Linked DNA regions of Homo sapiens. The main gene of each other region encodes a partner of the protein of the gene in region 4 in a complex. Each region holds a gene or a part of one and is shown on either strand. Other genes may lie near its edges. The genes, in order: HDAC2, PHF12, MORF4L1 and SIN3B. A codon is read from its position in the direction of its gene.

Region 1 (7,236 bases), on a different chromosome or scaffold from region 4:
TTATCCCGTACTGTTATCAAATATGTAGGAGAGAGGACAAAAAAGTTTTTGGGGTTGTTTCCATTAAACAAACAAAAGGTGTATTTAGGGAGGACTTTGAAAGATTTAGTGGATAAATTGCATTTTTTATTCTAGCTTTTATTGTAATATATAAACCCGTGTTGAAATGATAGACTTCAAACCATTAAAATAGCTTGACTGTCCTGACCCTGTGGGGAATTAGTTCCAAGACTTCCACAGATAGCAAAATTCATGGGTGTTTAAGTTCCTTCAATAAACTGGTATAGTATTTGCATATAACCTATGTATATCTCCCCTTACACTTTAAGTCATCTCTAGATTACTCATAATACCTAATACAATGCAAATGCAGTGTAAATAGTTGTTACACTGTATGATTTAGGGGAAGATTACAAGGAAAAAAAGTCTCTACGTGTTTCCAGCAGACACCACCATCTATTTTTTAAAAATATTTTCAGTCTGCAGTTGATTGAATCCACAGATACAGAGGGTTGACTTTATATATTTGAGAGGCTTCTTGTTATTTACTATTATAGGAAACACTGGAGCTTTACCTAAAAGTATTAATTTTATTGAAATTTAGTTGATGAAAATCTGTGATTTTGTTATTTTCTCTTTTTTAAATCTTATGCATAAGTTTAAAGACATTGTGATATAAGATGCCGTTTAAAAAGACAGGCTAGGAATTACAACTTTTTAGTCATGAAGAATGAGACAGTATTTTTATTACCTTGAAAAATGTAATGCTGTGTCTTAGTGGAGCAAAACCTCATTTAGGACCTAAATTTCAGTTACCAAAACTTCCCTGATGGGCTTTAATATGGACACGGTATGTTTTAACATGCAAAACGCCAATTATGAGATTTCTGAAATGCCAGCAAATCATCCAAAAAGCAGTATTTGCTGAAAAAATTTTAAATCATACCAATAAAACTCAGAGAACTTAAAAGCATGTGAATTTGCCAGAGAATACAGAAAGCAGGCATCATTTCAAGGAACAGAAATTTTAAAAATTGGGGGTAGCTAAAAATCAGAAAAGCTTGCTTTCCTTAATCTACAAATAAATATAATGTGTAATAATGGAGTCTTCAGCTGGTAAAAGTGTGCGTAGCGTCTTAGTCATCTGATACAGTTTGAAAGTTGCAAAATAAATCTAAGTTGCTAAGGTTTTAAATAAATTTTGTTAAGTAGTAAATGCCTTCTAATGATAGACATACATAAATTCAAATAGTTCATGGAGGGTCTCTTGTCTGTATTGTTTAGTTTGTGTCTTTTCTATTTTAGGTGATATTGGAAATTATTATTATGGACAGGGTCATCCCATGAAGCCTCATAGAATCCGCATGACCCATAACTTGCTGTTAAATTATGGCTTATACAGAAAAATGGAAATATATGTGAGTATTCCTTTTAATACATATTCAGCACTGATCTTTTTTATTTTTTTTTAGCTACTGTGAAACTTTGTCTATTATTCCCCTTTTGAGGGCATTTAGCAGATGAAAAGATCTGGAAGAAAACAAACTTCTTTTTTCGTTTATTCTTAGGAGATGAATAAGAATGAGAGCTATACCCTCTTTTTCCTTTTCCTTTAACCATTTAAAAAAGTTCCCCCTACCCTAGGCTTTCATGGTTCTGGAGAACAACTCAGTATAGCAACAACTCAGTGTAGCATATTAAGTATTTTTTTTTTTTTTTTTTTTTTTACAATAATTGTTAATCTGCCTGTGCTGCTGAAAAGAGTTGACCTGGGACTGTTACAAAATAATAACACATAAAATTAATCCCACAAATATTTGCAGGGCATATAATACATATGGAATACTGTGTTAGTGTGGCCAAGCATAGTACAGATAACACAAGTGCAACAGCTGCCTTAATGTTTTTGTAGATAAAGATGAGGGTATGTATAAACAAATACAGACACGACAATTAGCTATTTGGGGAGAAAAGAAATATTTAAAACAATTAATGCTAGGCAATATATGTGAATATGTGAATTATTTTCAGTTACATGTAGACATTTAGAGAAGAGGGGAAGTTAGAATAAGACTCAGTCTGGAAGTCTTGTGGAAGAATTGTGTCATACGTGAAATTGAGCTCTTCGGAACAAGGAAGATTAGGATAGAAAAAAGGACGAGAGGTCGTGAACAAAGATTTAGAATTGAAAACTCTTGTAGTGAGTGATTTCATTGATGAAATCACTGGATGTTTTATCATGGAAAAGGAGAGAAAGTAGAGTTTATGAACATATGGATTTGACTTTTTACTCGAACTGTTTCCACTAAAATAAGGAGTGATTAAATCATAGTTGATATGCCTGTGTAATGCTTTTAAAGGAGTTTGAATTAGTTTTGAGATTGATTACTGTTTTCTAAAACACATATAAGTTTGGGTTAGTTTTGGAATTTATATATTTTGTTCTGGTAGACTTGGTTCTTTTGAGGGGACCGATAGGGGAATTTGTATATTTGTTTGATAATACTGATATAACCGGTTGTAATTCCACAGTTCTGACATTTATTTCTCTTCACAGAGGCCCCATAAAGCCACTGCCGAAGAAATGACAAAATATCACAGTGATGAGTATATCAAATTTCTACGGTCAATAAGACCAGATAACATGTCTGAGTATAGTAAGCAGATGCAGAGATGTACGTTTCTAAGTAAAAAGTAGTTTTGCTTTGATAAATGTAAATTAGTATTTTTAGGAGCTTAGAATGATCTAAATCTGAATATTTTTCCTGTTGGTCTAATATGTTACAGTTATTTACTGATTTGAAAAGTCATTTTAACACTACTAAAGCTACTTAAGAAAAAAGTAAACCTATCTGAAGCTTATTGGTTTGCAAAACTGCTGTTTGGGTATTCTTCTACTCCTAGTTTGCTCCCCTGATAACTTTGGGTTAATACATATTGGTAGGGAGACCTCACTCCCTTACTCCCTCGCTTCAAAAAAACAAAAACAAGATTACACTTTGATTAGCCTTAGCTTGGCATGTACATATCTCTTGTCTTGTCTTTGTGTACTTCAGTTAACCTGGACTATAATACACATCTCTTTTTCTTTGTTAAGATATTAGTGAAGCTTTTGATTCTACGTAATGTTCTCTTGTACAGGTTAAAAGTATTTTATTTTTAGAGATTAGTAACAAATTGGCTTGAAGGTAGAATGCAAAAGTCAACCTAAAATTATTGGAACAGTATCTTTTAAAGCTTGATACCAAAGTTCATTCTCATTAGTGTTTGTATTGACTGACTTCAGTGATGATTATACTAAATTAGTGTAGGTGCTAGACATCTCATATTTACAACCTCATACACATTTCTGCCATATCTTGTTTGATTTGTTATAATGCTACAATGTAACTAGAACATGTAGTATTTAATTTTTTTTTTTTCAATGAAGATTCCAACTTAGATGCAAAAGAGGCATGAGTAGCCCTTGGGCAAACAACATAACAGGATTGATTTAAAACCCACATAATAATGAGTTCTATTAAGCTTATGATCCTGGCCAGGTGTGGTGGCTCACGCCTGTAATCCCAGCACTTTGGGAGGCGGAGGTGAGTGGATTACCTGAGGTCAGGAGTTCGAAACCAGCCTGGCCAACATGGCAAAACCCTGTCTCTATTAAAAAAGTACAGAAAATTAGCTGGGTGTGGTGGTGCGCGCCTGTAATCCCACTACTCTGTAGGCTGAGACAGGAGAATTGCTTGCTTGAGCCCCAGAGGTGGAGGTTGCAGTGAGCCAAGCTCACGCCATTGCACTCCAGCCTGGGCGACAGAGTGAGACTCTGTCTCCAAAAAAAAAAAAAGATTATGATCTCTCTGTGCAGTAAGAAACTAAAATTCATTTCTTATAGTGCTTGTGACTTAAGGGTATACAAAGATATTAATATACAAAACAAGGACCCTTATTCTTGAAGAGGTTACAATTCAAGGGCATAGGGAAAGACTAAGAAAGGGTTACATACATCTGCCATATCCTTTCATTCTCTCAGTGCTAAGGAACTAAATGTGTGATCGTTTATCTGTAAATGTTTTCCTTGTTGTCTTTAGTATCCTATGTTTTGGCTCCCATGAACCTAGTTAATTCTTAGCAACTTTCAAGATCAAGATTAGCCATGGGAATAGGCAACCAGCTGTTACATCTTTTTGGTTTAGTAACTTACTGACATGCATTTCAAAGTTACAGATATTATAGGTATTTAAGGAGTTTCAAAGAAAGTAAATTATAAAGCAATTGAAGTTGCTTTTAGAATGTTAACTTATTGTAATATTAAGGGGAAAGGCCTAGAAAATTTAAGCCTGTGTTTTAATTAAATAAGAATTGTTGTACTTAGACAACTATTGAGTTCTTGTTAATAGACAGAAATATTCCACAGATAATCCTGATAAGATTTGATGATCTTTCACAGATAACACTTTAATTACCTTGGATAAAACAATAAATATATTTTAAAGTTGGAAACTTTATATTATACTGTGAAGTGTATGTTTGATGATTGCATCAAGCAAAAAAGTATTTGTGGGAAATAGTTTTTGTAAGAAAAGGCTTTCATTAATTTGCAGAATGTGTTGAAATTAATGAAATCCATCTTCCACAGTTAATGTTGGAGAAGATTGTCCAGTGTTTGATGGACTCTTTGAGTTTTGTCAGCTCTCAACTGGCGGTTCAGTTGGTAAGTGCTAATGCAATCAGATTTAAAAGTTGATCTGAACTTGGTGTGTTATCTTTCGGGTTATTTGTGTAAAACAGAAGTTTTAATGATTGTGAATTTTGATAACAAAAGGAAATCAGTATGTTTATAGTAAAGTACAATTTACTTTCAAACCTCTATGTTTTATGATTATGACTTAAACGCTTTTTAAACTTATTTTCACTTGGAGACTTCATTCATTCCCTTTGTCTTCTAGGTATCATTGTTACTACCACTTTCCACATAAACCATTATTTAATCTCAGGTTGCAGCTCTAGGAGAATATTTTTCTAAGGAGTAACTCCTATTTGTGTTATAGATGATTTCTGTTAACTTTCATGATTTTAAGCTCTTGCTTATGCATGGCATACACTTGTAGTGTTTTTGTCTCATTCTACTACTTTTTTATGATAAATGTTTAAAAGGTCTATCTTGTTTCTACTTCTTAGCTGGAGCTGTGAAGTTAAACCGACAACAGACTGATATGGCTGTTAATTGGGCTGGAGGATTACATCATGCTAAGAAATCAGAAGCATCAGGATTCTGTTACGTTAATGATATTGTGCTTGCCATCCTTGAATTACTAAAGTATGTTAATTTATATTGATACTCTTTTCAGTGATAAAGTGTTTTCATTAAAACACAATAAATAAAGTCTATGGCTTTAAAAAATATTAGGTAAACCATAGGTTGAAATAGTTAATGGTGAATTTTCTATGAATTCATTACAAAACAATGAAGAAATGCAGGAAATTTGCCCAATTCTTCAATTATTAAGACTTAGAAGTGTGGCCAGGCACTATGGCCCAGGCCTGTAATCCCTCCACTTTGGGAGGCTGAGGTGGGCGGATCTCTTGAGCCCAGGAGTTTGAGACCAGGCTAGGCAACATGGCAAAACCCCATCTCTACAGAAAAAAAATTAGCCAGATGTGGTGGCATGCATCTGTAGTCCCAACTACCCAGGAGGCTGAGGTGGGAGTACCTGAGCCCAGGAAGTTGAGTCTGCAGGAAGCCATGTTCCTGCCACTACACTCTAGCCTGGGCAACAGTGTGAGACCCTGCCTTAAAAAAAGAATTAGAAGTGTATAAAAGGCCAGTGCCGTGGCTCATGCCTGTAATCCCAGCACTTTGGGAGGACGAGGTGGGTGGATTATGAGGTCAGGGGTTTGAGACCAGCCTGACCAACATGGTGAAACCCCATCCTACTAAAAATAGAAAAATTAGCCGGGCGTGGTGGCGTGCGCCTGTAATCCCAGCTACTCAGGAGGCTGAGGTGGGAGAATTGCTTGAACCTGGGAGGTGGAGGTTGCAGTGAGCCGAGATGGCACCACTGCAGTCCAGCCTGGGCTACAGAGTGAGACTCCATCTCAAAAAAAAAAAAGAATTAGAAGTGTATATAAATGTCAAAACTCCCATTAAATACCCTTTTTTAAAAGTAGTTTGGCAATTTTCATTTTAGTTAGTTTCAACTAGTAAAAAATGACAATGACCTTGGAAGTTTATATTCTAGTATTTTGGATGTTTTAAACTGAAGACAAAAATTTGAAGCCAGTGTTAAAGGAAATTTTTTTACCTATTGAGTTAGTCTAACTGCCTAACTTCCATATCTGAATGAGGCTTTGTTCTCTACTGATGGATATAAAATTATCTCTGAGTTGTTGAAGGAGTTATTTTTCCTTATCTGTGGCTGCAGTTTGAGAGAGAGATCTATAGAGGTACTTAGGAATTTGGATGTTCGCAATGTTAGTTATTTTTTGCCATCAGTTATGACACATCTTAGCAGATTCTACTTTGTATTATACTGAGCTAGTGTTTTTTGCTTGTAGTTATTCCATGCATGCTATCCATAGAGGCTGACTTTTCAGTCAACTTAAAATTGATACTGACTCCTCAAATAAACAGTGATTGAGCAGTATCAGTGTAACATCTTGCCTGCTCATCAGGAGCAAAGGAAAATCATTTGCAATCATTTGCCTTGTTTTTTAATTGACTGTTGATGTTGGTTCCAGTGTCTTCAACTCTTTGAGCAAGTTCTTGCCCACTCAGCTAATAGTTTTAAACAACTTTAATTTGTCTGGACACATTTTTTTGGGTGGTGTAATCAAACATGATTTAATTAATTGACTTGGTGCACAGCTTTCCTTGCTTATCTAACACGTGAGCCGCTCAGAAACTTTATTTTGATCACAGCCTCATTTCTGTTTTTTTAATTTTGTGAAGAAATTTTGCTGTACTATGGTATGCTGTTTATAGTGTTATGAGAATATTCTTATGAGTGCTTAGTCTGGAAATATCAATTTACATTGTATTGTTTTATTTAGCACAGTTATGGCACCATTATATAATAAATACAATGCTTTGCCATCTAATAATATCTCACTTCACTATACTTCAAAAGGATGACATGAGAAGTCCATTTTCCCCTTATTTTGACATGAGTATACACTGGTAACAAAATGTCATGACATGGTGATTCATGTGACTCCTAAACTGCGTTTGAGTTACAACTGTGT
Region 2 (7,438 bases), on a different chromosome or scaffold from region 4:
CAGCAGCAAAACTTCCTCTACGATAATCATTTTTGTCCCAGCAATTTTACAAGCTGGGATGGGGTGCCCTCCTGGGCAAAAGTATCTTGGGAATGGTAATGGGAGTTTCCTACATAACTTCTGACCATAAACTTAATTTGCTCAGTATCAGTCATCTGTCTAATAAGTGTTCCCAAACCTGCAATTAGTACAAATATACAGTAGACACTACTCCACAAACCGAGAGATGGAACGTGAATGGAACTGTTGAGAGACCTTCGGTGAAATTTCACTTAAAACAAAATAAAAAGAGGGCTAAAAAAGGCAACATCAAACAACTGGTGGGAACACAGAACAGCCCCCTTTTCCTCTCTCCAGTCTGGCTCCTCTCTCAAACCCCTGCCTCAGTCAACTGTTGCAGAACAACAGAACGAGACCCAGTAGAACAAGACGAAATCTGGGTTTGCTGCCGCAGATGTGGGATTTTTGTGGAGGGCAGAGGTGATTTCGGCCGGCAGAAGATGGAGTTTAAACTCTTCTTTGCCGGATTGTCCTGGGCTGAGCCGCTGAGGAGGATCACGCAGCGGGCGATCAACTCAGGTCCCTCCCTCTCGGTTCGGTCTCTCCCCTCCTCTCATGTCCAGTAAGGGGGAAAAAGCGTACGGCTTTCCAGCTCTCAGCTCCTTAAAAATGCCTTTCTAGTGCCACCGCACACAATCCTCCCTCTGGCAGCAAAGAATTTTGCAGCGAAGGGCTCGCCGATCCGGAGCGGAGAAATGAAATCGGCGCCCAAGGGCAATTTTAATTGTCTAACCCGGCCCGATTTCCTAAGAGGCAGCGGCGCCGGGAGGGAGGAGGGAAGAGGGAGGAGGAAGGAAGGCAGCTCTGAGAGGCAACAGGGGGCAAGCGGAGGCAGAGAAAGGGGATCAAAGCGGCGAGATCCCAGACGGGGCCCCCGAGGAGCTTCTGCAGAAAGGACTCTGGGGCTGTCCCCACCGTTCCCCCGAGAGACGTTTGCAAATCATATATGCAGCCAAAATGGCGCTGAGAATAAAAATATAATTTAAAGGCAGGTCGCCATATTGTAAACAGAGAGGCAAAGAAGAGGCGGACTCGAGAGACACCCTCCACGATTTTTTCTACAGCCACAAGCGCCCGGTTGCCGGGGTCTGGACCAGGGCAACTCAGGTGGCCGAGGGCTCCACGCACCCACCCCGAGGAGATCCCGGCCGGGCAGGAGCCCCGAGGGCAGCGGGCGCGCGGGCAGGCAAGCGGCACTGGGCCCGGAGCTCCTCCCCTTCCTCCCCCGCCACTGCCGGCTGTCCCCGGCCGGCTCTGTCCCGGCTCCCCAGCGACTTCCAATCCCATATGGGGTTCTCTTCACTCGTCCCAACCCCCACCTCGGGGTCCGGACCCACCGCTGCTCCTCCCCGCTAAACTGCCAGAACCCGGCGGACACCTGGGGGCGGGGAGGTGCTCGCCCCGGCAGCTGCAGAAAGTCAGCTAGCGGCTGCAAGCGCCCGTTATTTCGGCAGTCAGGGGCAGGCCGGGTGAAGGAATGCGCAGAGAAGGGTCCGCCAAGAAGCTCCAAAAGGGTCCCCAGACCTTACCAGCACTGGAGGTGGAAGGCAGCCGGGCAGTGGTCGCAGCACAGGAGATCTCCACCTTCCTTGCAGCTATCGCAGCTGTCGTGGTTGGTGGCCCTGCCGCTTCTCCGGGGCTCCTTCTCAGGCTTCCGACTGCGCTTTTCTGCCTCGTCCGTCTTGGGGGGAGCCAGCAGAGCTTGGATTTGCTGCACACACATACAAACGGCGTGTGTGCACACTCGGAGCTCCCGGGCGGTCCGTCGCCCCCCCGGCGCGGTTTCTCCGTCACCCACCCCTCTCCCCCCTTTTGTCCTTCTTCCTCCCATCCAGGCTGCTCCCAGAATCTCTCAGCCCCCGGAACCAGGGGGAGCCCACCCTAACCGCGTTCCTGCAGCACAACAACGAGAACAGCTTCTTCCAAATGGGGAGGATCAAGGGTAGGGGGATGGGAAGAGGGTGCGCGGTTCCCTTCTTGCCACTTCCTTGTATGGACAGTGGGGGACTCCAAAGACCCGCTCGGGAGAGGCCCAAAGCCCGGTACCCGGACGTGCTGGGGGAAGCACAAAGGGGCCAACAAGAAGGGGGTGGGGAGGCCTGCCGGTGCAACGAGATGGAGTGGGCTGGCGCCTCGGGAGAGCGAATCGAGGGCGGCGGGTAGGTGAAACTGCTGCAAACGTCCTCGGAGGCTGAGCTCAGCCCCCTAAATTGCAAAGAGGGGAGGGAGAGGCTAGGTGAGGAAGAATCCCCCTCCCTCGGCCATCTAGGCGCTTCGAGTTTAGGACTGGCTTTGTGGGGCGGAGGGCGGAGGTTCCCTCCCGGCGCTGGAGGAAGGAGATGAGGAGGGCCACTCTTACCTCCATCAGCCCCCCTGATGTGTCCAAGTCGTACACGATCGTCTTGGTCTCCATTTTCTCCCACATTCATCCACCTCCCGGGCTGGGTGCTCTCTGCTCCGGCCCCCCCAACCCCGGGGGGAGGGGGGAGGTGAGGGGAGGGGGCGCTCCTGACCCCGGCCCCGCTTTTTTCCCAATACGGGTCCCGACTTCCTCGCCCTGGCTCCCCCCCACCCCCCGGCCCCCAGTCCCCGGGACGACAGCGTCCTCCCGACGGGCCGCGAGGGGGGAGCGGCCCCTCAGTCCCGGCCCGGCTGCTGGCTGCACAGTGGGTCCCGGCTCCGGGGGTCAGGCCTCGGCGGGGCCTAGTCCCACAGGCTAAAGCCGGCACTGGCGACAGCCGGTCCGGCCGGGAAGGCTGGCGGGCGCTGCCATCCCGGGGCTGGGGGTATCGGAGGGGGGGTGAGAGGTTACGTGAGGTTGTGGTACGTGAGGTGACTGGGGGGAGGGTGATGGGGGGTGGTCCCCGGGCTCCGCCTCTCGCCGCCGCCGCCGTCTGCGTCCCGGCTGCCGCGCACTTGGCGCAAACTTACCGCGAGCGCCCGCAAAGCCACCCGCGCAGGCGCCCCGGGATCGGCGCTCGCCGCGCGCAACCGCAGTGACAGCCGGCGGCCTGGCTCCCGCGCAGCCGCGGTGAGGGAGTACCCCCCAGCGCGCAGCCGCGCTGGCATTCGTCTGGAGGACCGAAGCCCCACCTTTCTGCCCTGCGCCAGCGCACTGAGACAAAAGGGCGGGACCTGAGGTCTCGCGCAGGCGCTTGAGAAAGCTTGTAGGGGTCAAGGCGCAGCCGCAGGAAGCTAGGGACTGTTCATCCATTGGTGTTTGTGTGCAAACTAAGACGACTCTGTTCTGCGCAGGCGTGTTGGGGGTGCTCCCCCTTCCTCTCCATAACACAGACGCCTCCCGCGCAGGCGTATTGCCTTCCGCAGGCCCTCACAAGAAAGCTGCTCCTTTCGCCATTTTGGTAATGGGATATGGGCTATCATGCCCTTGGAGTCCTCAGGCATGAACAGAAAGGAGCAAGGTGTGGTGTTGGATGGAGCTGGTCGCCTGTCGGTGACAGCAGTATTCCTAGGGATGTTGTACTTGACCGTTTGGTTCTACCATCGGGTGTGGCTGGACCAGGCCACCATATTGGTAAAGAGAAAAGCCATTTGAGACAGAAAATGACGCTTTTGGAGGCGTGTGGGATGACTGTGGTTCCTAATTCTCTCCCGCTCCTGACAGATAATTTTATCAGTTAATTGTATCCTCAGCATCCCTGCCTTGCGTGGTGGTGGCACTGGAGAGTTCCGCCTGCCCGTTACCACCCTCTCTTCACCACTGTCCCTGAGATCTGCTCTTCAAGAGGAAGCCTAAAGTGGAGAGTTTGTAATCCTGACAACGCCCAGCTACCTGCGTACCCCGGACTCCAACTCCCAGTTTGCAACGCCAAAGGGTCTAAAGGGCGAACGGGGGCGCATTGCATCCTGGGAGCAAGAATCGCGATAGGTCTGATGGATTGTGGGAACTGTAGTTCCATGTGCGTGCGATGCACTCTATGGTAGGATAGACCCGGGGAAGAGTCATTTGCCGGCCAGGAAGGGATACTTTTGAGAGCGTCAGTGCTGCATGCCGGGATTTGTAGTCTGAGGGCCCGCCTCGCATTCTGGGCGGGGATTCATGCTCCTTTTCAGGGCGCCCGCTCCTCCCCTTGGTATTGCCGTCAGAGATGGGCGGTTGGTTATTGCTGCCTGATGGTGGATGAAGCAGTGGAAAAGAGAATTGTATCGTTGTGCTTGACACTAGGGGTTTAGTTGGAATTGTTGCTTCGTAGCTGTGCTCGGCCCACTTTTAATGTTAAGGGACACAGCATTCTCAGAGTCGTCAAACTAGCAAGGGTTTAGAGACCATCTGATTTAATCCCCTCTTTTCCAGATGCACAGGGAGGCGCAGTGATTTGCCTAGGTCACATAGTGCATTTATGGCAGACCTAAGAATTGGATTTCTTGATTCTCAAGCCAGACACTGTCCATTACACTATGTCGACTGTGTCTAAGGAATTACTATGCTTGCTTTGGGGACAGTAAGGAGGATGAGTTAGACAGAGTGGGGATGTCAGTGTATGGAGTCTTAGGTTTCTGTTTTCCTGACTTTTCGCTTTTCTGATGACCCTCTTGGTGCCTGGAAAGAATGATAAGGTCATGGATGGTGGGGTGGAGAATGTCATGTGAATTGGCTGCCCTCTGCTTTCTACCATTCTGAGCCAACAATAAACTTCAGGAGCTGTGGACCAGAGATGTGGCCATCAGAGAGGGGAGGGCTGAGCTAGATTGTTTGTATGAAAGAGGCAAGATTTTCTATCTCCTATGGCTATATTTTATGTCACAGGCTCTCAGAGTTTAGAACCTCATGTGCCCTCTCTCTTTGGCTTTTTTTCCTACTGCTCAGGGCCCAGCTGTGCTGCTGTGTTAACCTGGAGGCATTATGGAACAGGTAAGTAAGCCATTGGCATCCATCCACTGGACAAGGCTTTGCTTTGATCAACACCATCAATTGCAGCTGATAATAGGAACTATGGGCTAATGAGGGAAATAAGACTTGGCTCTGTTGACAAGAGCCAGGGAAACTTCACACCTCTTCCTCTTGGAACTTGCAGGATGAGGTTAGGCCAGTGGGGCCAAGGAATGCTCCCACCTTGGAGAGCTCCCGCCCTGACAGTTGAGGGGGGATTGAGGGGCGAGCAGGTGGGATACAGACGCCTTTGGAAGTGACCTCTTGTGGCTAATCTAGGCACTGCACTCTGCATGGACAAGAGCTTCTCCATCCTTCAAGGTGGCTTGTGCTAGAGCCAGGGGTAGGCAGCATGAGTGGTCAAGACTTCCCTTTTGGAAGACTGTAGAAGCAGAAGGTGCTGGTTGCTGCTATTATTTCTTTCATGGATTTTTCTCTACTGGTTTCTGAGCTCCCATAATTTCCTGTTGCCTGCCTCTTGCTGTCACTCTTGGAGAGCAGCAATGCAGGGCACACCTCTCAGCATGGAATGTGCATACTGGGGGCCAACGCTGGGCACTTTCCATCTTTGTAGGTGCTGGGGCCCATAGGGAAGGGGCAAACTTGAGCACATCCTCCCAGCCACCTTTTTCCAGAGCCCATGGTTAGGGCCTTTGCCTAACTTAGGATCCAAGCCCGTAAGCTGCATTACCACTGCTCCTGACAATCTAAGGGTTTTGTAAGGCCAAGCCAGATTAGGGCTTCATGTTTTGGGGATCAGTCTCTGTTTCCTATTCTAATTTCCCAAGCCTTGCTTACTTAGAAATAAGGGGAAGGAGAGATGCATCAGACTTCCTGAGCCTAGTTAGCATTGAGAAGGGCATCAGTGGCGTTGAGAAGGGATTTGGGAGTGTGCCAGCCTGTAGTTCTGGACCTGGCAAAGAGGAGGAAATAAGGCATTGGGTGGATGTGCAGTGGGGTTCCTGGGCTCCCACATCCCTGTAACATCAGCCATTGGGGCCTCTGATTTTGCCTGCTATCTGTTGCACTGTCCCTTTTGGTACAGGGGACCCTGTTCAACTGCATGCAATAATTTCTTTTAAAATAAAATCTGAGCACTTTGGGTGGCTGAGGTGGGAGGATCACTTGAGCCCAGGAGTTGGAGACCAGCCTGGGCAACATAGTAAGACCCCATCTCTACAATAATTTTTTTTTAAATTAGCCATGTGTGGTGGCCTGCATCTATAGTCTTAACTATTCAGGAGGCTGAGGTGGATCACTTGAGCCTTGGAGGTTGAGGCTGCAGTGAACCGTGATCCAGTCACTGCATTCCACCCTGGTTGACAGAGTGAGACCCTATCTCAAAAACAGTAGTAATAAAATAAAATCTGAAGATGATTGATTGGTGGGTCTAGCATGCCTTCTGGTCCTGAAGTCCATATCCCATTTATCTCCCACCTCCCGTCCCTCCAAGAAAGCATCATTCACCTGGCCATTGCTTTTTTTTTTTTTTTTTTTTTTTTTTCCAAAAACACCATTTTAATAAGGAAACAACAGAAATAAAAGATTGTTCTCTGGCTGGAGCCCAGACCCCATATAATACATTACATGTACAAAGTGGCTTTCAGCCAGCTCCTGGGCGTCTCCCTGGGGCTCTCCTACCACCTGTTCCATGCCAAATTCCTGGGTCCTTGGACCTCTGCTCCTCTCCAGAATATGCCCACCCCCTCCCCTTATCCCATAACACAGTGGTCAAGAGGAGAGCCTGACAAGTGGCTGGAATTGGAGGAGGGACTATTAGGGTGAAGATGTTTGCAACAGCTAAATAAACATCGGAGGAAAGTCTCCCTTTCCTCAGGGTATAGGGTGGTCAGTGGAAAATGGCGTGTCCTGCTTTGGTGTGGAGCATGAGTGCCCAGGGAAGCCCAACCTGAGGTGGGGGTAGGGTCCCCCTGAACCCCTTAGGATCTCCTAGAATTACTGCCTCCACTGGGACAGGGCAGGAGGCAGAACTGTCCAGAACTTTAGAGAACTAGAGACCTCCCAAGAGGCTGATGTTGGCATGCCAGGACTACCCAGAGGTCACCGTTGAGAGGAGTTTTGGCCATTGGTGATGGCGCTGTGAGGAGTACCCTGGTGCAGTTCCCACCATGGTCAAGTTAATCCTGCTGCAGGTTGCCATGCCAGGGCGGGATGGTGGTCATGTGGAGAAAGGTACTCCTGCTCTGCTAGTGTGTTCCAGGCTGGTCCAGGGCATGAGGAGGCTCAGGATGCTGGCTGTTGATGCTTGTGCTCCAGCTATGTTCTTCCCACAGGTAGATGCCCCCTGACATGGGCCCAATGAAGGGCCCCAAGTGGGCAATGACACCAAGAAAATAGGCCATGGTGGGCATCGCAGGCGGGGAAGGGCACAACTTCTTGAGGGCTTGGTGGCATCTCCTCCTAGGTGGTATATACAGGAGGTGGAGGGACAGCAGGAAGCAAGGAGCCTTGCTGCTGGACTGTGGT
Region 3 (7,236 bases), on a different chromosome or scaffold from region 4:
CTCTTCCTATATATTATATACATAAGCCACAGAAAACACTTTCCTAAAATACATTAAACCAGACATTCTCTCACAGTAAAACCACACATAATGACAATTCAGGTAAATAAATAAGGTTATACAATGAACAACACTATACATATACAAAGGAATGAACTCTGGAGTTACTCCCCTATTTCTAAACAGCAAAGAACAGTTATGTCTGCAGAATACCAACTTGGGAGCTTGAACCATCTTTAAGAAACAGTTATTATCCTATTACATGACAGCATTACCCTAAAAGAACATCTAGACATTTTCTAAAAAAAAAATCGTTATCAGCCGGGAGTGGTGGCTCATGCCTGTAATCCCAGCACTTTGGGAGGCCAAGGCAAGCTGATCACCTGAGGTTGGGGTTCAAGACCAGCCTGACCAAAGTGGAGAAACCCGTCTCTACTAAAGACACAAAATTAGCTGGACATGGTAGCGCATGCCTGTAATCCCAGATACTCGGGAGGCTGAGGCAGGAGAATTGCTTGAACCTGGAGGCAGAGGTTGTGGTGAGCTGAGATCACGCCACTGTACTCCAGCATGGACAAGCGTGAAACTCCATCTCAAAAAAAAAAAAAAAAAAAAAAAGAAAAGAAAAGAAAAAAGAAAAAAATCCTATCAGGCCAAGCACAGTTGCTTACACCTGTAATCACAGCACTTTGGGGGGCCGAGGCACAAAAATTTGAGGCCAGGAGTTCAAGATCAGCCTGGCCAACATGGCAAAACCCCATCTCTACTAAAAATACAAACATCAGTCAGGCATGGTGGTGTGCACCTGTAATCCCAGCTACTTGGGAGGCTGAGGCCCAAGAATCGTTTGAACCCAAGAGGCGGAGGTTGTAGTGAGCTGTGATCGCATCACTGCACTCCAGCCTGGGCGACAGAGCAAGACTCCATCTCTAAATGAATAAACTTTTTTTTTTTAATTACATAAAAGGGAACGTGAAATGTCAAGTAGTAGAGCACATTCCATAAAGAAACTGAGGTCCAAAGAAGGTATTTATCATTAGTAAAGAAAAGATGATAAATCTTGCCTACATTCTCAAGTCCACGTTGCAGTTTTAAATTTACTGTAAAACGATTGTAATGAGAAAATTCATATACAGAAGTATACAAAGTAGAAACTGAAAACTCCCACCCTCCCTTCCAACACCACGCCCAAGAAATAACCCAGTATTAACTAAGATCCACATTGGAAAGCCAGATCTTATGCAAAGATTAAAATAATGTTTCTCTACAAGTAACAATTACACCATACTCCTCTACTACAGCTTGGCTGTTTTTCAATTGAAAACATGGACATCTTTATCAGTATGTTTAGAGTGACCTCACCCTTTTAATAAGTGCTTGTTTCAAATTCTTCACTATTATAAAAATGCCCTCCAAAAACTTGTAGAAACCAGGATTGCCCTTTTCTCCATTTCTTCAAACATTTAAACCTTAGCCAATCTGACAAGTGCTACTTTACTGACAGTTTATACTTTCATCATTATTTCTGACATATTTTTAATGGTCCTTTGTGCTGCCATTGATGTAAATTTCCTGTCCTACTTTTCACTGGTTTGTTCATTTCTTACCGAAGAACTCTGTGTGTATTAAAGGTACCAACCATTTATCATAAATGGAACACTATAGAACTATGAAAATATTACATTTCTCCTTTCATTATCTTAACAATTTAATTTTAAACTTCAGATTCATCTAGAATTTTGGTACATGACAAGTGTGGCTTTGTTTTCTTCCAAACTGTCAGCTGTCTTATCACCAATCTACCAGACTCCACTGCTTTCCCCTACTGCACCAATATATCATCTATATACCATCTATCATTTCTGAGACTCCCATGTGTTTGCACTTACTTTTACTGCTCCATTACCAACTATCTATGCCTGTACCAATATAATGTTTAATGTTTTAGCATCTATACTGCCAATCCCTCCCATTACACGCTAATTTTCAAATCCATGTTTATAATTTCAAGCACAGACTTACTTTAGGAAATCGTGAAGATAATTGAGTAATAAAGCAAGGCTCTTCTCATCCAGAGGTGTATAAGCCAACATTGCTCCAATTCGTACTGTTTAAACAAGAGAATTTATCCAAAGTTACATCCAAGGCAGGGGCACTACAACCATGTATTTTAATTATGTGAGCAAACACCACCAATTCCTTTAAAATACATGATTTTAGGCCGGGCATAGTGGCTCACGCCTGTAATCCCAGCACTTTGGGAGGCCGAGATAGGCGATCGCTTGAGGTCAGGTATTCAAGACCACCCTGGCGAACGTGGTGAAACCCCATCTCTACAGAAAATACAAAAATTACCACAGATGTGGTGGTGCACACCTGTGATCCCAGCTACTTGGGAGGCTGAGGCAGGAGAATTGTTGAACCCAGGAGGCGGAGGTTGCAGTGAGCAAAGATCGCACCACTGCACTCCAGCCTGGGCAACAGAGACTGTCTGTCTCAAAAAAAAAAAATTATAAAATAAAATACACGATTTTTAAAACTCTTGCTCCTAAAGAGATTTTGCTATTTAACATTCTAGATAAAAGTTCAAATTAAAATGGGAGTCATGTTTTGGAAAGTTAATTACTTTACCTCTTATTCATTTAGAGAAGACCCCCCAAAAAGTAAAATCCATTATTTTCTACATGACATATTACCAAATAATCTCAGGAGATGTGGCGCTCCATACACCTGGGACATGGGTGCATCGGGATGATCTGCAAGAATTTCAGCATACTGTGGTCTCTCAAATTTATAGAGTAGCTGGGTACCCAACATTACGTTGAAGTATTCTTTTATCCCTGCCACAACTTCATTAACCGCATACTCCCTGATAAATGAACAAAAATATTCCAAAACTGGTCAATAAAAATAACTGACATAGAGAATAATTCAACCAATTTAAAGAATTAAAAGCTGAGCTAGTAATAATGAACCATAGCTGAGATTTTTTTAAAGGGCATATGAAAGCAGGGTTTGACAAACTAAAGCAATTAAGATGATTCTTACATTTTCAGATGGTTAAATTTTAAATGGTTATGCAAATACCTACATGATAGCTTAAATTTTACCTAAAATATTTACTATCTGGCCCTTTAAGAAAAAGTCAGCCAGCCAACTCCTGTGTCAAAGCAGTGAAATTCTATTTTGCTAGTTTCTGGTGGTATTAATGTTTCGGAGTCAGTACAAGTTTCAGATGACTTATTTAGAAACTTTTTTAAATGTCTTTTGAGTGTCATCTGAAAAATGTATATTCTTACTTATTATCTGTGTTTCCACGAGATTTCTTGTAATTTGCATAATCCTCAAGAATGGAATCCACATTCTTCTTGGCAGGAAGATAAAAGAGCTATGAAGACAAAAATATGCTTAAATATAAGCACTCTCTTTTTTAAAGAAAAATCATACCAGGCAAGTTTTTATACAAAGATCAGGTAACAGTAACAGTATTTCAAATTAGGAAAGATACTATTCAGCACTTAAAACATGGATAATGTGGCTGAGAAACTACAGACAGTTCCCAACTTACAATGGTTTGGACTTAATTTTCCAACTCTCTGCTGGGTTTATTGCGATGTAACCCCATTCTAAGTTATGGAGCATCTATATATTTAAACAGCCAAATGAGACTCTACTAGACAGAACAGCACAGCTTTTAAAAATGTCAATCTGTCACACACACATAACAGACACGAATGTGCCTTTGTGGTACTACCAAGTCATCATTTACTGTTATGCATACTATTTGCTAGATCTAGTCTAAAGCATTAAAATAATTATCTTTTCGTCCTCTCATCAGCATTGTCAAATACAAACTATTATTCCATTAAATGCAAAAACAGAAGCACAAAAAGGCTAAGAAACTTGTCCAAACTCACAAATAATAAGTGATACAGCCATGCTTGAATCTTCGCAGTTTAGCTGTAACTGCATAACCCTCCAAAGGATTCAAATCAGAATTCAAACTATATCCACATACTGTATATGACTGATAGGTCTCTTAAGTCTCATAATCCTCAAGCAGTCCCTAATCATCTCCCCCAACTATCCCTAACCCTACCTATGCCATTTGTTCAAATAGCTTCATTTGTCCTATAAAATTCTCAATTATAGAGTTCAACGATTGACAAACATGTCACTCCATTAAACATCCTATTTCCTGCAAACTAACAATAGATCCAGGCGCTTAGTAAGATTCAGGTTCTTTTCAGGGTCATGAATACCTTGCAGGTGGTGGTGTGTGCTTTCTATGGCCTACCATTAGCAATGACAGTAAGACATATGCTTCTTCACCTTTATGAATTTTCAGAACGAGTTCCTGCCCTAGCAATCTCCAAAAATGAGTTATTTCCACCTTTATCATTATAACCTCATAAAATTTATATGTGAACTTTTATTCTTCTAACTTACTCTTTCTGGTAGTAGTTCTAAAGTGTTCAGCCTCTAAATTAAAATATTATTTTATCAGTCATACCTTAATAATTCAAGTCAATATAACATTTTCCTTTAAAAACTTTTTTTGCTAGCAAGAATGTATCATATAGCTTAACAATCTGGGTAGCTTTTCAAGTTACCTGTTTTTGCCTGGTAATTAAGTCCCAGTCATCAACAAGCCACGGTTTTAGCTCTTCAGGAATCTTTACTTTAACTTCAACTCTGTTCATGAATGTTTCCTCCTAAACAGAAACAGGAGGAGTATTAAAAACCTAACCTTTCTTGCTAAATACCAAACATGGAGGGGAGCTGACTTTTAGAGGCACTAGGGATAAATCTTAAAGTAGCCAAGCATACAGCTGTACTGTCATTTTTTAAAATCATTAATAAAAACGACCATACGCGGTTCGCTGTTGGGAGAAAAGAATCTGACCTGAACTATAGTCTATTTAGTGCATTTTCTTGTAAAGGTAAAAATTCTTCAGTAAGGTTCCTCTTGTTCAGGAAATGAAACACCCTGACTTGATACATTTTAACTTAGTATTTTCTTATTTACCATGGATATCAAAACTATTCCAAACACAACCATCTTAAAGGTACATCTTTAACTCCTAAAAATAAATACGTAACACCAAAGAAATAGTCTTGTAGGTGAACATGAAGCTTACACAACAAATGATCAATTGGGTAGGTAAATCTGGAGCTACAGGTGAAATAAAGATATACAGAAATTTATCCTTTACCCCCAAAAGAGAAAATTTTTAATTTCAGGTATTAACCATGTAAGCAAATCTTGTAGATAATCAAAGCTCCCATGGTTATGTCATGTAACTGAGACTAAAAATCCTAACATGCTATTCATAAACACAAGAAAAACTCACATTTTCAACAGTAGGATCTACCCGGGCCCTTTTCTTCCGAGGAGGCTGAGGGGTCTCACTGGTACTGCCACCATCTCCATTTCCAGGTGCTGTAAATGTTGGCGGGGAGGGGTCTCATTTAGCTAATTTAACAAACTCTATAAGGAAAATAGTCTCTTGACACATTAACCCTTTTCATTATTTCTCCATTACACAGCTGTTACCTCAATCTAAGTTAAAGAATCATATTCCTACCAAAAATACAACTTTCATGAAGAGCTCTACCGAACATTTAGTATAGACAACATTTAGTATCACCATCTTCCATTTATTTATAAATGTTATCTTCTCAGTGGGAGACATTAAGACTAAAGCAGATGAAAATAAATGCTCACAAGTTTCTCCTTGGCAAAAAGAGGTCTCTACCACCATGTACCTATTTTATAACACTGCTGTGAGACTCCTATTTGAGATAATCAATAAACATAAGCTTACTCCAAAATTTCATAGCTTTCAAAATAAAAACGTCAATGTCATAGAGGTAACATAAATTAACGTTAAGAAAGTTAATATTCTTACTTTTCTGTTTGTTCTTTTTCGTTTTCCTAAAAGGAGAGAAAAAAAAGAAAAATAATTATTTCCAGTAAAACTGCCTCTGTTTCAACTCCCTTTATCAGGGTTAAGTTCACAGAGAAATACTAACTTGGATAAAGGATCAGGTGGTAAATATGTGTCCTACTCAGACACAAGGATTTTTATTGATAGTTGGTTAAATTCCCATCTCTCTCCACATAATAGAAAAAAATAAACCAAGCCAGGCGCAGTGGCACATGCCTGTAATCCCAGCATTTTGGGAGGTGAAGAGGGGGTGGATCTCTAGAGCTCAAAATTCCAGACCAGCCTGGGCAACATGGCAAATCCTGTTCTCTATAAAAAATACAAAAATTAACTGGGCATACTGGCAAACGCCTATAGTCCCAGCTACTTGGGAAGCTGAGGTGAGAGGATTGCTTGAGCCCAGGAGGCCAAGGCTGCAGTGAGCCTTGATTGCACCACTGCACTCCAGTCTTGGTGACAGAGACCCTGTCTCAAAGACAAAAAAAAAAGAAAAGCAAACCAAGAACACTTTAGTAAACAACTTCGTTCTTCCAGGGTTATATTAATATATGTTATAGTATATACTACATTATTAGGCCCACCAAAAAAAAAAGGTGTCAAAGGTTAAAATTTTTTTCCAATTATTTTTGTTCCCCAAAATATTTTTAGATTTGTGTAATTTTTTTGTTTTAAGTCTCCTCATCTTGATTATCATCTCTAACAGCAACTTACCTCACGTCACTTATATACTGTCAAATGGTAAATTGCTAATTTTGCTTTATTTATTTATTTTGAGATGGAGTCTTGCTCTGTCTGTTGGGTGATCTCGGCTCACTGCAACCTCCTCCTCCCGGGTTCAAGCGATTCTCCTGCCTCAGCCTTCCAAGTAGCTGGGACCATAGGCACCCACCACCACTCCCAGCTCATTTTTGTATTTTAAGAGACGGGATTTCACCATGTTGGCCAGGCTGGTCTCAAACTCCTGACCTCAAGTGATTCGCATACCTCGGCCTTCCAAAATGCTATTACAGGCGTGTGCCACCATGCCTGGCCTAATTTTGCTTTTTTACATTATTATTTCTAGACCACAAAGGAAACAGTTTATAGAGCCCATGATTATGGATTACTTTCGATGGAAAGATACTATAACACCTGGATTTTTTACTTTTCTGTAGCTTTAAATAATACTTATAAATGTTATTAATTAAATATATTCATTTAATTTAGGTCTTAAGGTTTGACAATTCAAATTAACTTATGTTTGGATATAAACACAAAAATCTGTGTATAGGTTTTCTCTTGTCTG
Region 4 (7,236 bases):
CCTGCCAAGCTTCCCACCTCAGGATCCTGCAAGCAGGCACTCCCTACACACAGCTACTAACAGGCCCAGCTCCTGGCAACCTGAGGGCCCCGCTGGCCTTGGTTCTATGACTCAGGCCTTGTGAGCCTGCAGTGAGGACATGCAGCCGAAAGCCTCGAACCCAATGACTCAGAGCCCTGGCCCCCTGCGACCAGCCCAGGCAAATGCAACCTCTTGTGCCTCAGTTTCCCCACTGGTAAAATCAGAATAATGCCGCAGCAGAGTCAGGTTCAGGAGTGAGGTCAGATGATGCATTACTCTTTCTGTGTTGCTAACACCGGTGCCTGGCACAGTCGGCAAGAAAGAAATGAAGGCTGCTGCCACCCACTACCTAAGCCAAAGTCCATCACTGCCCCACGGGAGGGACGGAGACTTCGCTAGACAATGGCAGAGTCGGCCAGGAGCGGTGGCTTACGCATGTAATCCCAGCACTTTGGGAGGCTGAGGTGGGTGGATCACGAGGTCAGGAGTTCAAGACCAGCCTGGCCAACATGGTGAAAACCCATCTCTACTAAAAATATAAAAATTAGCTGGGTGTGGTGGTGTGCGCCTGTAGTCCCAGCCACTCAGGAGGCTGAGGCAGAAGAATCACTTGAACCCAGGAGGCTGAGGTTACAGTGAGCTGAGATCACACCACTGCACTCCAGCCTGTGTAACACAGCGAGACTCTGTCTCCAAACAAACAAACAGATAGACAATGGCAGAGTTGCTGGTTCTCCTAGGGCAGGCCACAGGCTGGGCATCACAGAGACATGAACCCTCGCCTCAACACAGCCCTGAAAGGGCAATGCCACTACCCTGCCTAACCACCAGGGAAACAGAGGCACAGACCCGGCGGTCGGGAGAGCCAGGACCCCACCCCCACCGGCCGGCAGGGCTAGGGAAGGCTTTACCTCGTCGTAGACGCTCTCGATCTCGTTGAGCAAGCTCTTGGAGCGCAGGGCCTTGGTGTCGTTCTGCTTGAAGTTCACAGCCTGGTGGTCAAGGGACTTGAGGTACGCCTTCTCATACTGCTCCCGCCAGATCTTGTTGAAGCCCTGCTGGGCCTCCCGCCACTCCTCTTCCTTGGCCTTCAGTCTGCGGGGGGAAGAGAGGTCAGCACCAGGGACAAGCCAGGGCATCCTCCCTGAAGCATCCCAGGGCTGGCCTGTCTTCCTCTGGGACTTGACTGGGGGTCCAGGACCCAGGCCCAGCCAGCTCCCAGCCTAGTCTGTGCAGTGGGCTCTGTGCACGTCAGAGGGAGGGCGTGATGGCCTTACAGAGCCAATGTGGCCGGCTTCCCGGTTCCTCCACCTCCTCCCTGGCACCCAGCACTCTCCGCATGGCTGTTGGCTCAACCACTCAGGTCCCCTGCTCAGCTGTGAGTCCCAAGAGAGGGACTGGGTCTGCCTCACTCAGCTGCATAATCCCAGGGCCAAGCACTGCACCTGCCTGAAAGTGACCACTTGATAAATGCCTGTTAACTAGCGCCGGACGGCATCCGAAATGCAGCATTAAATAAAATGCAAGCCACAGTGTAGTGGTCGCATCTGACTCTTAAAGCAGTTATTTAGATGTCTAGATGTATTATGTGCAAGGTGGAAAGTCCTAGAAGGTCACAGTGCTCTCCTCTCAGGAGTGGGAGACTGGGAAATACAGGAAGGCACCCTTAGGCCTCAGAGACCACCCCTGGAGATGACACCTGTTGACAAACAGCACTAATGAGCTCTCCAAGGGCTCCCTGCAGTGGGGAGGGGAGGGGAGGGGAGGGGAGGGAAGGGGGAAGGGGAAGGGGAAGGGAAGTCGGGACGCCACAGGGCACCTTTTCAGGACAACGGGGACAGCGGTGACAGGGTTCTTCTTGAGGCTCTCGATGATCTCCGGGGCCTTGTCGCCATAGATGCGATAAATGGCACGGCGCTGGATCACCTCCGACGTGCCTCCCAGGGAGTCGTCCAGCCGGAACTTCTCCTGGTCTTCCGGCGCCATCCGAGACAGCTTCTTCTGCACACTTTCCAACACACGGATTGTGGCCAGGTTCGTCTCCAGGACAACGTCTAACTATGGAAAGGAAGGCAGGACGGGGTCAGCCACTGGGGAACTCAAGAGGCCTCAGAGAGGAGCCTGGGACCTCAGAGACCAGAGGATTTTTTTGGGGGGGGGGTGTGTGTATTTAAGAGATAGGGTCTTGCTCTGTCACCCAGACTTGAGTGCTGTGGCACAATCAAAGCTCACTGCAGCCTCAACCTCCTGGGCTCAAACAATCCTCCCACCTTAGCCTCCCACGTAGCTAGGAATATAGGTGTGCACCACCATGCCTGGCTAATTAAAAAAATTTATGGCCGGGCACGGTGGCTCACGCCTGTAATCCTGGCACTTTGGGAGGCTGAGATGGGCGGATCACAAGGTCACGAGTTCGAGACCAGCCCGACCAACATAGTGAAACCCCGTCTCTACTAAAAATAAAAAAATTAGCCAGGAATGGTGGTGTGCCTGTAATCCCAGCTATTCAGGAGGCTAAGGCAGGAGAATCGCTTGAACCCAGGAGGTGGAGGTTGCAGTGAGCCAAGATCATGCCACTGGACTCCAGCCTGGGCGACAGAGTGAAACTCTGTCTCAAAAAAAAAAAAAAATTTTTTTTTTGTATAGATGGGCTCTTGCTTTGTTGCCCAGGTTGGTCTTGAACTCCTGGCCTCAAGCAGTCCTCCCACCTCAGCCTCCCAAAGTGCAGGGATTACAGGCGTGAGCCATCGTGCCCAGCCAATAAAACTTTTAATTACAAAAATTAATGTAGCCTGGGCAATACAGACCCTGTCTCTAAAAAAAGGAAAAAAAAATTAGCCAGGTGTGGTGGCTCATTCCTTTAATCTCAGCACTTTGGAAGGCCAAGGTGGGAGGATCGCTTGAGGCCAGGAGTGTGAGACCAGCCTCGGGAACACAGTGAGACTTCATGTCTACAAAAAAAGTAAAAAAAACAACTTGGGCATGGTAGTATGGACTTGTGGTTCCAGTTACTCAGGAGGCTGAGGTGGGAGGATCATTTGAGCCTGGGAGGTCAAGGCTGCAGCGATCCATGATTACGCCACTGCACTTCCAGCCTGGGAAACAGAGCAAGCAAAATAAATAAATAAATAAAATAAAAATAAATTTAATTTTTACATTAAAGAAACTTTTTAGGAGACAGGGTCTCATTCTGTTGTCCAGGGTGGAGTGCAGTGGTGTGATCTCGGCTCACTGCAGCCTCGGCCTCTCTGGCTCAAGCAATTCTACTGCTTCTGCCTCTCGAGTAGCTGGGATTACAGGCGCCCGCCACCACGCCCGGCTAATTTTTGTATTTTTGGTAGAGATGGGGTTTCGCCATGTTGCCCAGGCTGGTCTCAAACTCCTGAGCTTAAATGATCCACCTGTCTTGGCCTCCCAAAGTGTTGGGATTACAGGTGTCTGCCACTACGCCCAGCCCAAACAAAATTTTTAAACAGAAAGAAAAGTGCCATCTGGTAGCCAGCCCAAAGGCCAGCAAGACCCGGCAGGAAGCTTCCAGGAGCTGTTGGAATGTGCTGCAATTCCTGCTCCTCCAAACGAGACTGGGGCAGTGGAGGAGGATCAGGATGCATGTCCCATGGAGAAGGGGAACAGGCACATGCCGGGGGACCCGGCCACAGCAGCACACACACCTCGAAGCGCTCGTCCTCACAGCGGTGAAGCTGCTCCTCGTACGGTGTCTTCTTGGAGCTGACGAACGTGGAGTCCTCAGACCAGGAAGGGAAGGAGACCCAGGTGTCGTTCAGTACCTGCACCAAGAGGAAATGCCGTGAATGACGCTGCATGCCCCAGGAGCCAAGATTTACTGTTAGCCAGTGTAGAAAGTACCAAGATACATAATACCATCCTGATACATAATACCAACTGCCTTATACAAATGGGAAGGTGCATAAAGTTTTTAAGGAAAAACATGACTTTGGTCAAGTGGACACTCCCTTGGTATCCTGGGAGATTGGTTCCAGAACCACCCCTGAAGACCCAAATCCACAGATACTCAAGTCCCTGATGTCCAATGGAATCCTATTTGCATATATCCTATGCAAAATCATCTCTAGAATACTTATACCTAATGCAATGTAAATGCTGTGTAGATCATTGTTACACTGCATTCTTAAAATGTGGATTACGCTTTATTGCTGTATTGTCATTTTTTGGTTTCTCTTTCCCCACGTATTTTCAATCCATGGTTAGTTGAAACCACAGATGAGGAACTTGCAGATCCGGAGGGCCGATTTCATTTCAGACATTGGTAAATTCTCTCTGCAAAGGGTCAGACAGCAACCATCTCAGATTTTGCAGGCCATCCCAGATGAATACTCAACTCTGCCTTTGTGGTGAGAAAAGCAGCCACAGGCAATATGTAAAGGAATGGTTGTGTCTGTGTGACAGTAAAACTTTATTTACAAACACGGGCAGCGGGCCAGGGCCCGTGGGCCAGAGTTTGCTGACCCCTGCACTATATCCTGGAATCCAGCAGGTATTCTTGAACTTGGACATGCAGTAATCGTCTGTCCACGAACCCTGGAGAAGTGTCCAATGGTCAAGCTAAACAGAAACACACTGAGGTCAGTGAGCCCGGGACAGAGCAGAATCATGGCAGCAATAAACCTAAGTCAAATAACAGATGAATAAGCCGAACTCCACGTTATCCCTGGCACTCTGTGTTTTGCCAAAACTACCAGCAGGGTACAACACTGTTGTCTCTGCTCAGGTGGTTTTGCCGGGCCACATCCCAGCACCACCCATAACCCAACATTCAGGAGGGCTGAGCACACAGCATTTCATTCATAACGGGGGTATCGGGTGTTTGCTGGGGAGGGGTGGGGGATGCACCATGTCAACGAACATTTGAGCCCCAGGGAGCGCTACCTCCTTGCAGATGGCTGTCCTCCCACTGCACTTGGGCTGCTGGTAGGTTTTGGGGAGTGCCCGGTAGCTGGATCCTATGCGCTTGCAGGATGCATAATCAATTTCCCGGCTTATCCCGTCCCCGGATCTGTCGCTCATGGGTGGCGCGAAGGACAGCTCTTTTACCCCCAGGAAGGACTTGAACTGTGCAAAGAGTTCTGGAAATTTCCTTCAAAGATAAAGACACATGGTAACTGGTCATCCCCAGGGCCTTCTGAGAGGGATCTGGAGATTTTAGAATGGCTTCATGTGGACATTACAAGTTAAACAGAGTCAGAATTCAACATCATGGATGCGAATGAGAGGCGGAAGAATCCAATACACAGGAAGTCACTGCAAGTCCCGGGGTGTGTGAATGAATGGGCCTCCCACCCATCTGTCACACACCAGGTCCCTTCCTGTGCCTATTAATCCCATACTCACAGTAAGGCTTTGAAATACACCAGAAAAGATGACTTAAACTGGCAGAAGCTGGAACCCCTGATGTTCCCTGACTGGAAGAGGCCAGGCTTCAGGCCAGGGAGTGGCAAGCCACAGCCAGTCTGCACACTGCCTGTGTTTTGTTTGGTTTGGTATTTTCTTTTTAGAGATAGTGTCTTACTCTGTTGCCCAGGCTCAAGGGCAGTGGCATGATCTCAGCTTACTGCAACCTCAAACTCGTGGGCTCAAGAGATCCTCCCACCGCAGCCTCCTCAGTAGCTGGGACCACAGGCATGTGCCACCACACCCGGCTAAATTTTTTTTTTTTTTTTTTTTTGAGACAGAGTTTCACTCTTGTCGCCCAGGCTGGGGTGCAATGGCACAATCTCGGCTCACTTCAACCTCCACCTCCCGGGTTCAAGCAATTCTCCTGTCTCAGCTTTCTGAGTAGCTGGGACTACAGGCATGCACCACCATGCCCGGCTAATTTTTGTATGTTTAGTAGAGACGGGGTTTCCCCATGTTGGCCAGGCTGGTCTCAAACTCCTGACCTCCGGTGATTCACCCGCCTCGGCCTCCCAAAGTGCTGGGATTACAAGTGTGAGCCACCATGCAGGGCCAATTTAAAAATTTTTTTGTAGAGATGGGGTCTTGCTATGTTGCCCAAGCTGGTCTTGAACTCCTGGCCTCAAGTGATCCTTTCACCTCAACCTCCCAAAGTACTGGGGTGACAGGCGTGAGCCACCATGCCTAGCCATCCCATTGTAAATAAAGTTTCACTGGCCTGCAGTCACATCCACTTGTGTACGCACTGCCTGTGGCTGCCTGCACAAGAGGGGTTTGAGTCATTTCCACAAAGCCCATCTGGCCCCTCAGAGATCAAGTTTGCCTATCTCTGATCCACAGTCTTCCTCTCATGAGGGAGACTTCTCTCTGTGAACCCCTCTCTGGACACAAGCTTGAAAGTCATAATGTCATGGCTGTGGTCGACAACAGGAAGGCTTTAATGCAAATGACCCTACAATGCCACCTGGATTTCTGTTTAAAATAGTATCAGACCTGGTGGTGTGTACCTGGAATCCCAGCTACTCAGGAGGCCAAGGCGGGAAGATCACTTCAGCTCAAGAGTTTGAGACCAGCCTGGGCAACAGAGCAGGACCCCGTCTCTAAGCAGTAACATCAGATCCTACCAAAAAAGTTGCAGTTATGGCCAGGCGCAGTGGCTCATGCTTGTAATCCCAGAACTTTGGGAGGCCGAGGCGGGCGGATCACGAGGTCAGGAGATCGAGACCACGGTGAAACCCCGTCTCTACTAAAAATACAAAAAAAAAATTAGCTGGGCGTGGTGGCGGGCGCCTGTAGTCCCAGCTACTGGGAGAGGCTGAGGCAGGAGAATGGCGTGAACCCAGGAGGCAGAGGTTGCAGTGAGCCGAGATCACGCCACTGCACTCCAGCCTGGGCGACAGAGCGAGACTCCGTCTCAAAAAAAAAAAAAAAAAAAAAAGTTGCAGTTACTTTGACTGCTGGTGCCACAATCCTGCTGTGACCTAGCCACCCAGCCCACCCTCGCATAACGACGTCCCCCTCATTGATGTGGGCTCCGTCGTTCCCCGTATTTAAGAACCCTATGCCAACCCTGCTCACAAGGAAAACCCACAAGCCGATGGAAACGTAGGAAGGAAAGAGACCAACAAAAAAGCTGCAGAGATGCCTGAGGCTACTGCTGGGATAAACGCAAATCGTGACTGCTCTGAAGGGAATGCTCAACCCGATCCACCCTGGCTGCCACGCGGCTGCCAGCTGCGAGGGGCAGTTCCCTGGGCCGTGTTCAGCTGCCCAGCCCAGCTG

What was found.
Region 1: the proteins of SIN3B (region 4) and HDAC2 are in contact, whole or in part, in a cryo-EM structure (PDB 8BPB), measured with the Homo sapiens proteins. Residues at the interface, in NP_056075.1 of Homo sapiens: Ile397, Gly398, Ser399, Ser400, Tyr401, Pro411, Lys412, Cys413, Ser414, Gly415, Arg416, Thr417, Ile419, Cys420, Glu422, Val455, Leu456, Asn457, Trp460, Val461, Ser462, Phe463, Pro464, Ser465, Trp466, Ser467, Glu468, Asp469, Phe472, Lys476; in NP_001518.3 of Homo sapiens: Lys9, Asp19 (codon at 1,308), Gly21 (codon at 1,314), Asn22 (codon at 1,317), Tyr23 (codon at 1,320), Tyr24 (codon at 1,323), Gln27 (codon at 1,332), Gly28 (codon at 1,335), Pro30 (codon at 1,341), Lys32 (codon at 1,347), His34 (codon at 1,353), Arg37 (codon at 1,362), Tyr46 (codon at 1,389), Gly47 (codon at 1,392), Arg50 (codon at 1,401), Lys51 (codon at 1,404), Lys59 (codon at 2,567), Thr66 (codon at 2,588), Lys67 (codon at 2,591), Tyr68 (codon at 2,594), His69 (codon at 2,597), Ser70 (codon at 2,600), Asp71 (codon at 2,603), Asp100 (codon at 4,645), Asp105 (codon at 4,660), Gly106 (codon at 4,663), Glu109 (codon at 4,672), His142 (codon at 5,238), Lys144 (codon at 5,244), Lys145 (codon at 5,247).
Region 2: the proteins of SIN3B (region 4) and PHF12 are in contact, whole or in part, in a cryo-EM structure (PDB 8BPA), measured with the Homo sapiens proteins. Residues at the interface, in NP_056075.1 of Homo sapiens: Glu307, Phe311, Leu318, Glu322, Val323, Tyr324, Glu325, Asn326, Leu328, Arg329, Cys330, Ile331, Leu333, Phe334, Asn335, Glu343, Leu347, Pro350, Phe351, Lys354, Phe365, Lys395, Arg396, Glu490, Glu493, Leu494, Val497, Tyr545, Arg546, Ile547; in NP_001028733.1 of Homo sapiens: Leu20 (codon at 2,428), Met21 (codon at 2,425), Gln23 (codon at 1,771), Ile24 (codon at 1,768), Gln25 (codon at 1,765), Leu27 (codon at 1,759), Leu28 (codon at 1,756), Pro30 (codon at 1,750), Pro31 (codon at 1,747), Lys32 (codon at 1,744), Thr33 (codon at 1,741), Asn264, Leu266, Val267, Leu269, Val271, Val273, Phe275, Thr276, Asn278, Arg279, Ser280, Arg282, Cys292, Pro293, Leu294, Pro316, Asn317, His318, Ile319.
Region 3: the proteins of SIN3B (region 4) and MORF4L1 are in contact, whole or in part, in a cryo-EM structure (PDB 8BPA), measured with the Homo sapiens proteins. Residues at the interface, in NP_056075.1 of Homo sapiens: Cys394, Arg396, Arg402, Ala403, Pro405, Lys406, Thr407, Tyr408, Ser462, Phe463, Pro464; in NP_996670.1 of Homo sapiens: Gln217, Gln219, Tyr222, Ser348, Tyr350, Glu351, Val352, Ala353, Pro354, Pro355, Tyr357, His358.

What each region holds. Positions count from the first base shown.
Region 1 is NC_000006.12:113,954,088-113,961,323, reverse strand, and holds part of HDAC2 (histone deacetylase 2), read left to right. Parts: intron 1-1,305; coding exon 1,306-1,418; intron 1,419-2,557; coding exon 2,558-2,675; intron 2,676-4,630; coding exon 4,631-4,705; intron 4,706-5,172; coding exon 5,173-5,311; intron 5,312-7,236. UniProt on the Homo sapiens protein: Histone deacetylase that catalyzes the deacetylation of lysine residues on the N-terminal part of the core histones (H2A, H2B, H3 and H4).
Region 2 is NC_000017.11:28,948,476-28,955,913, forward strand, and holds the start of PHF12 (PHD finger protein 12), read right to left. Parts: upstream 3,044-7,438; 5' UTR 2,486-3,043; coding exon 2,420-2,485; intron 1,772-2,419; coding exon 1,590-1,771; intron 1-1,589. Other genes in the region: SEZ6 (seizure protein 6 homolog), read right to left, coding at 7,131-7,438.
Region 3 is NC_000015.10:78,889,691-78,896,926, reverse strand, and holds part of MORF4L1 (mortality factor 4-like protein 1), read right to left. Parts: intron 5,939-7,236; coding exon 5,913-5,938; intron 5,444-5,912; coding exon 5,355-5,443; intron 4,716-5,354; coding exon 4,614-4,715; intron 3,389-4,613; coding exon 3,300-3,388; intron 2,870-3,299; coding exon 2,697-2,869; intron 2,108-2,696; coding exon 2,023-2,107; intron 1-2,022. UniProt on the Homo sapiens protein: Component of the NuA4 histone acetyltransferase (HAT) complex which is involved in transcriptional activation of select genes principally by acetylation of nucleosomal histones H4 and H2A.
Region 4 is NC_000019.10:16,860,253-16,867,488, reverse strand, and holds part of SIN3B (paired amphipathic helix protein Sin3b), read right to left. Parts: intron 5,138-7,236; coding exon 4,930-5,137; intron 4,838-4,929; exon of another isoform or gene 4,606-4,837; coding exon of another isoform or gene 4,510-4,605; exon of another isoform or gene 3,846-4,509; coding exon of another isoform or gene 3,810-3,845; coding exon 3,693-3,809; intron 2,080-3,692; coding exon 1,841-2,079; intron 1,117-1,840; coding exon 933-1,116; intron 1-932.